Homo sapiens: one gene and its partners. The protein of the gene in region 3 interacts with the protein of the main gene of each other region in a biochemical or structural test. Each region holds a gene or a part of one and is shown on either strand. Other genes may lie near its edges.

Region 1 (2,694 bases), on a different chromosome or scaffold from region 3:
ACTTATGGTTAAAGACAGTGAAATCAACAAATACACTTAGCTCTATCTTCTTTGAAAAGTGCATTAAAACAACAAGGGATTTTTACAAAGATATAGGTTTAGAAGCTGGAAGGCTGACTAGAGTTGATACTAAACGAGCAGTAGGGAAAGAACAGAAGCAATTGCATTTACACCAAACATACCCAAAATGTTTAGGTTCCAGATACCTATGGAAGTGAGGATGTAGTGGGAATTAAAAAAAAAAAAAAAAAAAAAGGATGGCAGAGTATGTTTAGAAGCAGATACCCAGAATCAATCCCTCCCAACACCAACACAAAGATGGTAATTATCAGTGGGTGCAGTGACTCATGCGTATAATCCTAGCACTTTGGGAGGCCAAGGCAGGTGGACTGCTTGAGCCCAGGAGTTTGAGAACAACCTAGGCAACATGGCGAGATCCTATCTCTATAAAAAATTTTTCAAAATTAGCCAGGCGTAGTGGCGTGCACCTGTAATCCCAGCTACTCAGGAGGCTGAGGTGGGAAGATCTTCTGAGCCTAGGAGGTCGAGGACGCAGTGTGCCCTGACTCTGCCACTGCCTTCCAGCCTGGGAAACAGAGTGAGACCCTATCTCAGAAGGAAAAGAAAAAAAAAGAAAAAAAAGATGGTAATTCTCCTCTTCCACCGCACCAGAACAGAAGTTTAGTGTTTTAGTCTTTGTAGAAGTGTCTGGACTGGGAGACACCACATACAGTTAAGGGCAAGAATATCATTTTGAAAACAGGAATTAAGTGTAGCTCGATATTCACAAAATACCGAGCGCTCCAGCCATCTTCCCAATCTTAGCTCCCAGAACACTGGCAAATGAAGTTCTCTGATACCCTCCATGCAGGAGACTGGATGCATCTTCTTTGGGGTATCTGACAGACTAAGTGAAAAGAATGAAGGATACTAACATCCAAACTTTCCCAAGTAAAATAATGCTAGATAAACCAGATAAATCTACAATGAAATTCAAGATCTGTAAGCCCTATCAATGTAGAAAGGATTTAAGTGGTATTTACGTGTCCTACACTCATAACAACTACAGGTAGCCAAGGAGTACCAGGCATTTGAGGACAGTATTTAATAAGAAACACTGAGACAAAAATAATAAAAGCAATTTTGGGAAAACTGACTCAGCAAAGAAACAAAATTTTAAGGAGAAAAATCTGAACTCCATATCTTTAATGAATACTTCATCCACTGGAGAGTTGGGTGGGGGGGAACCCAGAGGGGCATAAAAAGGAAACATCCAGAAAATAAAAAAGAATACTTAGAAATTAAAGAAATAGTGGAAGTTAAAATCTCTCTTTTTTTTTTTTTTTTTTTTAAAGATGGAGTCTGGCTCTGTTGCCCAGGCTGGAGTGCAGTGGCACGGTCTCAGCTCACTGCAAGCTCCACCTCCCGAGTTCACGCCATTCTCCTGCCTCAGTCTCCTGAGTAGCTGGGACTACAGGCGCCCGCCACCACGCCTGGCTAATTTTTTGTATTTCTTAGTAGAGATGGGGTTTCACCGTGTTAGCCAGGATGGTCTCGATATCCTGACCTCGTGATCTGCCCGCCTTGGCCTCCCAAAGTGCTGGGATTACAGGCGTGAGCCACTGCGCCCAGCAGAAGTTAAAATCTCAACAGAATGGTAATGAAAGATAAATCTGAGAAAGTATGACACAAAGACAAAAGGTAAGAAGGAAAGGAAGGATTAGGGGACAAAATCTTCAAATAAATAATTCAGGAAAATTCCCCAAAATGGAAGTTCACAAAAGAGCATGCTGCACTCCCTACACAAACGATAAAAACAAACCCACATCAAGACACATCCTGATGTATCAGAACAATGGAGGCAAAAGAGGAGAGTCTAACAATTCCAGAAAGAAGAAACAGGCCAAAGAGCAAAGATCAAGACTTCAGGCAACTCTGGAAGCCAGAAAAGTCTACAATGGAGAAATGCTTTCAAAATTATAAAAATGATTTCCAATCTACATCTATATTCAATCAAAATCTTACCAAACATGGGGAGAGAATAAAGATCCCTGCAGAGATGTATGGCCTCAATGTTTTCCATCCCTGAACCCTCAAGAATCACTGGAAGATGTGCTGTATCAGAAAATAGGGGAGTAACAGGAAAGACATGACACCCAGGAAACGGGTTCCTCTACGAAGCTAAAAGGAATCTCCAAAAGAATGGTAAAAAGAGGTTTCCCAAGAGCACAGTTAAACAGCAAGCCAAGAAAGCCTGGTAGGAGGAACAGGTTAAAAGACCCTGTGAGAAAAGTTCTTTCAGTGCTTACTTCAGCAGCACATACCCAAAACTTGAACAAAGAAGATTAGCATGGCCCCCTGCACAAGGATGACACCCAAATTTGTGAAGTGTTCTATATTTTTAAACTAAAAACTGATGAAAGAAATTAAAGAGAACACAAACAAATGTAAAGACATCCTATATTCATGGATCAGAAGAACTATTATTGTTAAAATGGCCATACTACTCAAAGCAATCTATGGATTCAATGCAATCCCTACCAAAAATACCAATGACATTCTCCATAGAAATAGAAACATATCCGGCCAGGCGCTGTGGCTCACACCTATAATCCTAGCAGTTTGGGAGGCCGAGGCGGGCAGATCACCTGAGGTCAGGAGTTCGAGACCAGCGTGGCCAACATGGCAAAACCC
Region 2 (3,500 bases), on a different chromosome or scaffold from region 3:
CCTGCTGGGCACGGCCTGATGATTCAGGAGGCAGATTTGATCCCTGTAGATCTGCTGATCTGGCCTTTCAGGAATAGTCTCTCTGGAGGGACTTCCCAGGCCACAGGGACAGCAGCCCTGGCCTTCCTAGGGGAGGCAGCTGAGCTCATGGTTATACTTAGAGCCACTCGAGAGCACCTGGGTGTGGCCACAGGGGAGCGGTCAGACGCCCCAGCCAGGCCACTGGGGTCCTCTCAGGCCACGGCTTCTCCATCCCCCAGACACCTCTTCCTGTGCCTCTCACCTCTTCTCCAAGACTTCACATTCCCCCACAGCAGGAGGCAGCTTAGAGCCTTCTCCCTGGGTCCCTGGGCCTGTGAGGGCCCACCACCCTGTCCGTGCAGTAAGCCGTAGCCACCCCCTTTCCATACTCTCTCTTCCCTACTCCCCACTCTTCTCTAGGTCTCTCTCTTCTAGACGTCTCCAACTCTATTTCTTTTTTTGTCCCTTCTTTCTTAGAAACAAGCCCCTCCTCTGTCAGTTCCTTGCTGTGTGTTTTGGGCAGCTCACTTGCCTGCTGTTGGCCTCACCTGTAAAATAAGGGATGCAGTATCTTTCTAATATCCTCTACTCTGGAGCTGAGCTATACCCGAAAGAGGGGCCAGATCCCTACTGGAGGCTCTTTCTAGCAGAGAGGGGAGGGAGGAAGCCATGTTGCTGCCATGCCCCAGTGGGTAGGCCCTGAGGCTATTTGTGTCTCTCCTCTCCTGACCCCCACACCCCCATCTAGACTGAACTGAATAACTGTATCTCCATGCTGGTGGCGGGGAATGACCGTGTGCAGACCATCATCACTCAGCTGGAGGATTCCCGTCGAGTGACCAAGGTGAGCGGACAGAATAGTCCTGCCTGGGGATTTGGAGCTTTCCAGGGCAGCCTGGTCTCTGGGGAAGGCTCACCCATAGGTTGTGGCTAAAGGTTGGGGCCCGGAGCCTGGGGCGGTCAAGCAGGGATGGCAGGGGAGGGACTAATCCATTCATCCAGTCTCTCAACAAATGCTTCTTAAGCACAGCTGTGTGTCCGGCCCCACCCAAGATGTGGGGGATGGAGGAGTGAACCAGACAGACGTGGTCCCTGAGCTCAGGGAGTGTCCCATCAATAATTCTCAGTATTTATTCAGCACAAATTGTTTTCAGAGCACAGTTCTTCAGTGTGCTGTAGACCAACACTTCCCAAACTTTGAAGTGCGTGAAAATTACGCTGGGATCATGTTGAAATTCAGGTTTTGATTCAGTTGGTTTGGAATGAGGCATAAGAGCTGCATTTCTAGCCAGTTCCCAGGATTTGCCCAAGCTGCTGGGTCCACAGACCACATGTTGAGTAGTGAGACTGTTGAGGGCAGAAGGGAACTTTTCTATCCCTGAAAAAAGCTTCCACGATTTTCCATGTTCACTTGGGGTAGGGATCTGGAGATGAGATGAGGGGAAGGGGTCATCATAATTGCTAGTGGATGAAGAGTTGGGCGAAGGGTAGGAAGGAGGGGAACATTGTGATCACCCACGAGAGGCTCCCGGTCTGATGAGATGCTATTGTCACACCCATTTTATAGAAAAGAACATAGAGAGAAGGGAGCTTCGGTTGAGGAGGGTGCTAGGAAAGGAGCTGTTTTTCCACCTCTCCTAGGACCAAATGATGCAGAGCTTCCCGAATCCAGTCTTGGTCCTGAAAGGGAGGGAAGAGTGTGAACTGGGACATATGGGAGGCCCAGGAAACGTTAATTTGTTGAAGGTCACACAGCTAAAAGGGAAACACAGCTAAAAGGCAACAGAGAGCTGGGCACAGTGGCTCATGCCTATAATCCCAGCACTTTGGGAGGTCAAGCTGGGTGGATCATGAGGTCAGGAGATCGAGACCATCCTGGCCAACATGGTGAAACCCCATCTCTACTAAAAATACAAAAAAATAGCCAGGCGTGGTAGCGTATCTATAATCCCAGCTACTCGGGAGGCTGAGGCAGGAGAATCGCTTGAACCTGGGAGGTGGAGGTTGCAGTGAGCCAAGATCGCACCACTGCACTCCAGCGGGGGCAACAGAGCGAGACTCCATCTCAAAAAAAAAAAAAAAAAAAGGGCAACAGAGAAAGACAGGGCAGATCCCACATTGGGTGACTGTTGCATTGGTCTAAGAGGTGATGCTCCAATGACCAGCTGAGGTTGGGGGACAGGGGGAGGGTGCAGGAACAAGGAAGAACATGTTGTGTCATGTGACCCTAGAGCCTCTATTTTGGAAGAAGGGGCTAGCTGTTTTTCAAGGCATCATCCTCCAAATATCACTGGCGTACTAAATAGCTGTGAGGCCAGATGAGTGTTTTCTTCTTGTTAAGTCTTTGTTTCTTCTTCTGTAGTGTGGGGATGTATGTAGTGAGATCTCTTCTAGCTTTAGATTCCTTGCTACTGTCCTAGGAAGGCAGTGTAGTGGGCAGGGAATAAAGACCCTACAGAACGTGACCACAAGACTTCCGTCCTCAGGAGAACAGTCACCAGGTAAAGGAAGAGCTGAGCCAGAAGTTTGACACGTTGTATGCCATCCTGGATGAGAAGAAAAGTGAGTTGCTGCAGCGGATCACGCAGGAGCAGGAGAAAAAGCTTAGCTTCATCGAGGCCCTCATCCAGCAGTACCAGGAGCAGCTGGACAAGTCCACAAAGCTGGTGGAAACTGCCATCCAGTCCCTGGACGAGCCTGGGGGAGCCACCTTCCTCTTGGTGAGCAGGACTAGAAGGGTCTGGGTGGGGTCAGTTCAACTCTACAGCTCTAAGGTTCAAGTTATGCTTCCCCACTGACCACCCATGGGCCCTTGGAAAAGCCATTTAAACCTCTGTGAGCCTCAGTTTCCTCATCTGTCAAATGGGCATGTAACACCCCCCACCTTCCTCTTACTGATTTTATGATGATAAGATAAGAGGATGTTTATGAAATGACTTTGTAAGCTGCAAAATACAGTGTCCCATCTACAGACTATTAATTGAGCCCCTACTGTAGGCCAGGCACTGAGGTGGAAGACAAGGAGATAAACCAGACACAGCCCTGCCCTCAAAGAGCTTGTTGGGGAGGACAGAAAAGGCTCAGTTATAAGACTTCATAGTTCAGTTCAATAAAAATGTTCTAGGCTTCTACTGTGGGCCAGGCTTTTTGCTAGACATTAGGTATGAAAAGGTGGTTAGGATTGGGGAGTTCAGGGTTTAGGAGTTTTGGGATTGATACCCCTAGAATCCAAGCTTCCTGTCAAGACAGTGGGTCCTAGGGTGATGACCAAGACCTGTACAGACCACAGACAGAGGGAAAAGTTCCAGATTCTGCTCAGTTTGGGGTGGGGAGCAGGTCACAACTGGGCTAGGGAATGGCACCAAATATCTACCTACAACACCTAGTTCACTAGTTTTGCTGATTTCCTGCGGTTACCTCTTCTGCGGTCCTAATCCTTTGTTCTCTCTCCCCCTGCAGACTGCCAAGCAACTCATCAA
Region 3 (3,500 bases):
TTTAACTCCCTTACACACACACAAAAGAAAAAACAGTAAAAAAGAATTGTCTTTTAAGGCTGTTCATATTAATACTGTCACCTAAAGTAAAAGATGGCTTTCTTTGGGGATCATTTTCAAAAGGAAATTGCTTGTTTGTTGTTTTTAAATCATTTCTGGAGCGAAAGAGAAAATACTGTCCTAAACTCTTACCTGGGTTCATTTACTAGCTAAGTGACTTTGGCCAGTTTTAAGTTTGTACTTTAACCAGATGGCAAATTATTATTTGGTAAGAAGTTTGTTTCTCTCTCAAATAGTTGAAACTGTAGCAGTAAGTCTTCGCATGTGAAAAGCCTACTATAGAATAGCATTCTCTCTTTTGTTTTGCTTTTATTTTTAGTTTTATTTCTTTTTAAAACAAGGTCTCACTCTTTTGATTAGGCTGGAGTGCAGTGGCATGACCTGGGCTCACTGCAGCCTTACTTCCTGGGCTCAAGTGATCCTCCTGCCTTAGTGTAGCTGGGACCACACTCACTTACCACCAAGGCTGGCTAATTTTTTATTTATTTTTTTATCGTAGAGATGAGGTCTTACTTTGTTGCCCAGGCTGATGTCAAACTCCAAGGCTCAAGCGATCCTCCCCCTTGGCCTCCCAAAGTGCTGGGATTACAGGCACGAGCCACTGTGTCCCACCAGCATTCTCTTTTAAAACATCAGTTGGATCTCATTTTATGACAAAGTGATAGAAGGGGGATGTGTTATATGAATAGTAAGTTTACTTACAGAAATGAATGTGTGTGTAAATCTATATATATATATTTTTTTCTTTCTCTTTTTCAGCACTCTGTTTTCTACAGTGGACACTGATGAAATACCAGCCAAAAGACCAAGATTAGGTACTGAATATAAATTTTAAAAATTTTTAGTTTTTAAATAGGAAAAATATATGCATGGAACAAAATTCAAAAGGTAAAAAGTATCTGGTAAAAAGTAAGTCTTGGCCGGGCGCAGTGGCTGTAATCCTAGCACTTTGGGAGGCCAAGGCAGGCGGATCACCTGAGGTCAGGAGTTTGAGACCAGCCTGGCCAACATGGCAAAACCCTGTCTCTACTAAAAATACAAAAATTAGCTTGCTGTGGTGGCAGGAGCTTGTAATCCCAGCTACTCGGGAGGCTGAGGCAGGAGAATCGCTTGAACCTGGGAGGTGGAGGTTGCTGTGAGCCAAGATGGTGCCATTGCACTTCAGCCTGGGGCGACAGAGCAGGACTGTGTCAGGAAAAAAAAAAACAAAAAAACTTAAGTCTCTTTCCTGGCCCGACGTGGTGGCTCAAACCTTTAATTCCAGCACTTCAGAGGCTGAGGTGGGAGGATCACTTGAGGTCAGGAGTTTGAGACCAGCCTGGCCAACATGGTGAAACCCCATCTCTACTAAACATTAAAAAATTAGCCAAGTGGTGCACGCCTATAGTCACAGCTACTCGGGAGGCTGAGGCACGAGAATCGCGTGAACCTGGGAGGCGGAGGTTGCAGTGAGCCAAGAATCTGCTACTGCACTCTGCACTCCAGCCTGGGCGACAGAGCGACACTCCATCTCAAAAAAAAAAAAAAAAAAAAAAAAGAAAGTCTCCTTTTTTTTTTTTTTTTTTTTTTTGAGACAGAGTCTTGCTCTGTCGCAGGCTGGAGTGCAGTGGCGCAATCTCGGCTCACTGCAAGCTCTGCCTCCCAGGTTCACGCCATTCTCCTGCCTCAGCCTCCCGAGTAGCTGGGATTACAGGCACCCACCACCACACCTGGCTAGTTTTTTTGTATTTTTAGTAGAGATGGGGTTTCACCGTGTTAGCCAGGATGGTCTCCATCTCCTGACCTCGTGATCTGCCCGCCTCGGCCTCCCAAAGTGCTGGGGTTACAGGCGTGAGCCACCGCACCCAACCCAAGAAAGTCTCTTTCCTATCCCTTTCTTATCTTTTCTAGAGGTAACTACTGTTACCAGGGACTTGTCTAATCCTTGCAGGTAAATAAGCCTAGGTGTAGACTGTGCATTTTAAAATTCTAAATCATTCTACAAAGAAAAGATACTTCTTATTTATTTATTTTTTGAGATGGAGTCTCGCTCTGTCACCCAGGCTGGAGTGTAGTGGTGCAATCTCGACTCACTGCAACCTCCACCTCCCGGGTTCACACCATTCTCCTGCCTCAGCCTCCTGAGTAGCTGGGACTACAGGCGCCCGCCATCATGCCCGGCTAATTTTTTGTATTTTTAGTAGAGACGGGGTTTCACCATGTTAGCCAGGATAGTCTCAGTCTCCTGACTTCGTGATCCACCTGCCTCAGCCTCCCAAAGTGCTGGGATTACAGGCGTGAGCCCCCGCGCCTGGCCCTACTTATTTTTAAGGAGGAAATGTTGTAAATGTTTCAAACTGAGGTGACTCTAGTTCAGATGGCTGAGGGAACCCATCTTTTCTATTTTTTTTTTTCGAGACAGGGTCTCATTCTGTCACCCAGGCTGGGATGCAGTGGCATAATCATGGCTCACTGCAGCCTCCACCTCCCTGGGCCCAGGTGATCCTTCCATCTCAGCCTCCCAAGTAGTTGGTTGGGCCTACAGGCACGTTATCACACCTAGCTGATTTTTGTATTTTTTTTGTAGAAACAGGGTCTTGCCACATTGTCCAGGCTGAAAATAGGCAGCAGTGGCATTTTGAAAGAATACTCCTGTCTTTAAGAACCGGTAATATTTCTTTTTTTTTTTTTTTTTTTTTTTGAGACAGGATCTTGCTCTGTCTTGATCTTGTCATCAACAATTTTTTTTTTTAATTTTGTAAGAGGCAAGGGTATCACTGTGTTGCCCAGGCTTCAGTGCAGTGGCACGATCGTAGCTCACTGCAGTCTCAAACTCCTGGGCTCACACAATCCTCCTGCCTCAGTCTCCTGAGTAGCTGGGACTATAGGCCCATACCACCACACCTGGCAAATTATTTTGTATGTGGATACTGAGTCTCCATATGTTGCCCAGGCTGATCTTGGAACTCCTGCCCTTCCAAAGTGCCGGGATTATGGATATGAGCCACTGTGCCCAGCCAAGTCTTTTACTTCAGTATATCTGAATGGATAAAGAAAATAAAAGTAGATTAAAGGAAAAAGGCATAGTAAAATGCTATAATAATATATTCCTCTTTCTCAAAAATGATTATAAATTTGGGTCTACCTCCAGATGTGGTAATTGAGTGTGGACATATTTGTGTTAATATTTCGTTTAAATTCAGTGAGTACTTATTGAGCATGTCTCAGTGCTAACCAATGTGTTAGGTTTTACAGAAAATACAAAAATTAGTAAGACAGGGTCTCCTTTTTTTTTTTTTTTGAGATGGAGTCTTGCTCTGTTGCTCAGGCTGGAGTGCAATGGCACATTCTCGGCCCACTGCAACCTCCGCCTCCCAGGTTCAAGTGATTCCCCTGCCTCAGCTTCCCAAGTAGCTGGGACTACAGGTGCCCACCACCACACCCGGCTAATTTTTGTATTT
Region 4 (3,500 bases), on a different chromosome or scaffold from region 3:
ATTAGGACCCAAAATACTCAGGGAATTTCAGTGAATTCCAGTTTTAAAAGTTCTGCTCTCCATCACTATGAGGAGTCAAACATTTGGCTCAAGGAAAAACTGAGGCTGCCTGACTCAGAAGCACCTACATGGGAAAAAGTACAAACAAAAAAAATGCCAGAAGGCAGTGCTTGCCAGAATGGCCTAAAGAAAACATACCCCCCTCCTCCAGGAAGTAGAAGAAAGAGGACAGTGGAGGCAAGATCTTACCAAGCTTGGTTCTTCAGTTTCCTCAGTTCTTTTGTTGCCCATGTAGCAAGGGTTTTTGCTTTGTTAGTCTTCGATCTCCGCCCTTCAGTTAACAATTCATGGATCATTGGCCTAGCTTCTACTAATTTCAGTACATCCTTCCCAAATGCTGTACATAAGTCCCTGTGCAAAACAAACACAGCTGAGAATGAGCTCCTAGCCCCATACCAGTATAATGTTTTGAGCCTTCCAAACCAGTGCTATGGGTTTCTTAGCAAATTTCAAAGATAAATAAAACCCTCAGTAGAGGTCACTAGACAGAGGCAATTGTTGACCAACATCAGAGTTTAATGGGGTGTAATACAGACACCTTGAGGGTCTGGAATAAACTATCATGTGAACACTCAAAACAGGACATGAAGCGTTCTGCAAAGAAATCTCTGTGCCAAAAAAGTGAACTGTTGCCATCCGCGATACTCTCAAAACTCCTTACTCCATGTTTTCTCATTTTCTGTGAGAAGTTCTATTCAGCTCTTAGAAGCAGGGTATAACTTACCCTATTAGTCCAGCAGCACAAGCTACTACTCCATCTGTGTGATCCTCATCTCCAGCAATGTGGTCAATGAAAGACAGAATAAATTCTACTCTGGGTTGTACCAGCATCACATCCGCTATAAAAGAGAGAGAAGGTATTGGTCGGGTGCGGTGGCTCATGCCTGTAAACCCAGCACTTTAGGAGGCCCAGGCGGGTGGATCACAAGGTCAGAAGATCGAGACCATCCTGGCTAACTCGGTGAAACCCCGTCTCTACTAAAAATACAAAAAAATTAGCCGGGCGTGGTGGCGGGCGCCTGTAGTCCCAGCTACTCAGGAGGCTGAGGTAGGAAAATGGCGTGAACCCAGGAGGCGGAGCTTGCAGTGAGCCGAGATTGCGCCACTGCGCTCCAGCCTAGGCGACAGAGCAAGATTCCATCTCAAAAAAAAAAGAAAAAAAAAAGAGAGAGAAGGTCTGATGCAGCTGTCCCTCATATGGCAGGACTACATCCTTTTTCAAAATTTCCAACTATTATACCCCTATCATACAAGGTCCAAGCTGGATAACTAGATGCATATAGTTATATCAAATTATTCTTCCTTTGATTAATGTGTCGTTCCTCAAGTCGACAGAAGAGACAAATATTCCTCTTCCTATAGGCAAATATAGAAGAAACAAATTTAACTTTTTCCTGAGCTAATGATACCAAGGGGGGTGAAGTAAAAAATTTCCCCAATCAGCAACAAGAACACGTAACGGGAATTATGACTCCCCAGTCCTCCAATTTAGCTTGTGGGGATGGGAAAGGGGTAGGGGACCTGCCACTCATGGTTGATACAGGAAGCATTTATGTTGGGTTTCTTCCCCCCAACATTTTTGCTGAATCCCATCCCTTGTAATACTCAAGAAATATGAGAAAAAGAAGCAGAGGGCTGGGTGCAGTGGCTCACGCCTGAAATCCCATCACTTTGGGAGCCCAAGGTGGGAGATTGCCTGAGCTCAGGAGTTCGAGAGCAGCCTGCAAAACATGGTGAAATCCCATCTCTACTAAAATACAAAAAAAAAAAAAATAGCTGGGCATGGTGGTGTGTGCCTGTAGTCCCAGCTACTCAGGAAGCTGAGGCATAAGAATCACTTGAACCCAGGAAGTGAAGACTGCAGTGAGCTGTGATCGCTCCACTGCACTCCAGCTTGGGTGAGAGTGAGACTGTCTCCAAAAAATAAAAATAAAATAAAATAAATTTAAAAGGCTGGGCACAGTGGCTCAAGCCTGTAATCCCAGCACTTTGGGAGACCAAGGCGGGTGGATCAATTGAGATCAGGAGTTCAAGACCAGCCTGACCAACAAGGTGAAAGCTTGCCTCTACTAAAAATATAAAAATTAGCCAGGCATAGTGGCAGATGTGTATAGTTCCAGCTACTCAGGAGGCTGAGGCAGGAGAACTGCTTGAACCTGGGAGGTGGAGGTTGCAGTGAGCCGAGATTGCACGACTGCACTCCAGCCTGGGCAACAGAGTGAGACTCCGTCTCAAAACAAAAAAAAGAAAGAAGAAGCAGAGCAAAAACAGTAGTCTACAGTTTTCCCCAAGCCACTCTCTTCATTAGGGCACTGCTCCCCCTTCTCCCAGCCTTTTAAGCAACAGGCACTAGGTTCACAAGCGAGCTACAGAATGACAGACATAGCCCACTTGGCTAAGTGCACATTGGCGAGCGGACGAAGGGAACTGGGTTGTATACTCAACGGTGTACGTTCTCCTGATCCCCCTTTAATCCCTGGACGATTCCAGTATAGGCTTCCAAGCAGCTTTCCCTTAGCTCATTCAGATAATCCACCATGTCATAGTCTGACTGTAAGACACAAAGAACAGAACCTACATCACACTGATCACTTTTAGCTGCATGTTTGTCAATAGTCCCTCCAATTAGAGCTAGACTTAAAGAACAGCCAAGATAGCTTTAAGCTTACCTTGTCCACCTGGGCTTGGGAGGCCTGCTGAAGAGTATTCAATACAACCTCTAAGTATTTTTTAAACTCTCCTCCAATAGCAAGGGCAATATCACCAAACACTGACAGAATCTGCGGCTTCACAGACCTGTGGACGTTCTCATTCTGACAAGGAACAAAAGGAAAAGTGAATTAAGTCAAAACTTGTTTGGTCCAAAGATTCATGAAAATTTCATTTCTAACAAGCAACTATTGATTTTAAATATTTGGATGGTCCTTTATAGCTTACAAAACCTTTCCCATTTGCACCTCACACCAACTCTAAGAAGCTAGCCCAGGTATTGGTATTCCCACTTTACACATGAGGAGACTGACTTAAGAATCAAGTGACTTGTCTGAGAACACACATGTACAATAATTAATGATGGCTATCTCTGGAGAGAGGTATAATATACAAATGGTCCCCTGCTCATGATGGTTTGATGATTTCTCCACTTTACAATGTGTTTATTGGGACCTAACTCCATCATAAGTCAAGGAACAACTGTATTTACTTTTCCTTTGCATTTTACTGTTTTGTTTTAAAAATCTCTAATAGAGCACACATTCCTTTAACTTTACAATCTTTCTTCAGAGTCATCTGTGAAATGAACAACTCCCCTCTTTATAAGCCCAAAGCCAATGTTCTAGAAACTTACAGCTCCCTGTCACTGATTTTTTTTTTTTTTTTTTTTTTTTGAGACGGAGTTTGGCTCTTCTTGCCCAGGCTGGAGTGCAATGGCGTGATCTTGG

Evidence for each region. The genes of interacting proteins can lie anywhere in the genome.
Region 1: the proteins of SENP2 (region 3) and NUP153 form a complex in vitro, tested with the Homo sapiens proteins (2 studies listed by BioGRID).
Region 2: of the proteins of SENP2 (region 3) and TRIM63, one has a biochemical effect on the other in vitro, tested with the Homo sapiens proteins (one large-scale study listed by BioGRID).
Region 4: the proteins of SENP2 (region 3) and KPNB1 form a complex in vitro, tested with the Homo sapiens proteins (one study listed by BioGRID).

Annotation. Positions count from the first base shown.
Region 1 is NC_000006.12:17,617,232-17,619,925, forward strand, and holds part of NUP153 (nuclear pore complex protein Nup153), read right to left. Parts: intron 1-2,694. UniProt on the Homo sapiens protein: Component of the nuclear pore complex (NPC), a complex required for the trafficking across the nuclear envelope. Functions as a scaffolding element in the nuclear phase of the NPC essential for normal nucleocytoplasmic transport of proteins and mRNAs.
Region 2 is NC_000001.11:26,057,631-26,061,130, reverse strand, and holds part of TRIM63 (E3 ubiquitin-protein ligase TRIM63), read left to right. Parts: intron 1-769; coding exon 770-865; intron 866-2,507; coding exon 2,508-2,741; intron 2,742-3,480; coding exon 3,481-3,500. UniProt on the Homo sapiens protein: E3 ubiquitin ligase. Mediates the ubiquitination and subsequent proteasomal degradation of CKM, GMEB1 and HIBADH.
Region 3 is NC_000003.12:185,589,295-185,592,794, forward strand, and holds part of SENP2 (sentrin-specific protease 2), read left to right. Parts: intron 1-819; coding exon 820-875; intron 876-3,500. UniProt on the Homo sapiens protein: Protease that catalyzes two essential functions in the SUMO pathway.
Region 4 is NC_000017.11:47,677,419-47,680,918, reverse strand, and holds part of KPNB1 (importin subunit beta-1), read right to left. Parts: intron 2,874-3,500; coding exon 2,730-2,873; intron 2,612-2,729; coding exon 2,506-2,611; intron 900-2,505; coding exon 785-899; intron 412-784; coding exon 250-411; intron 1-249.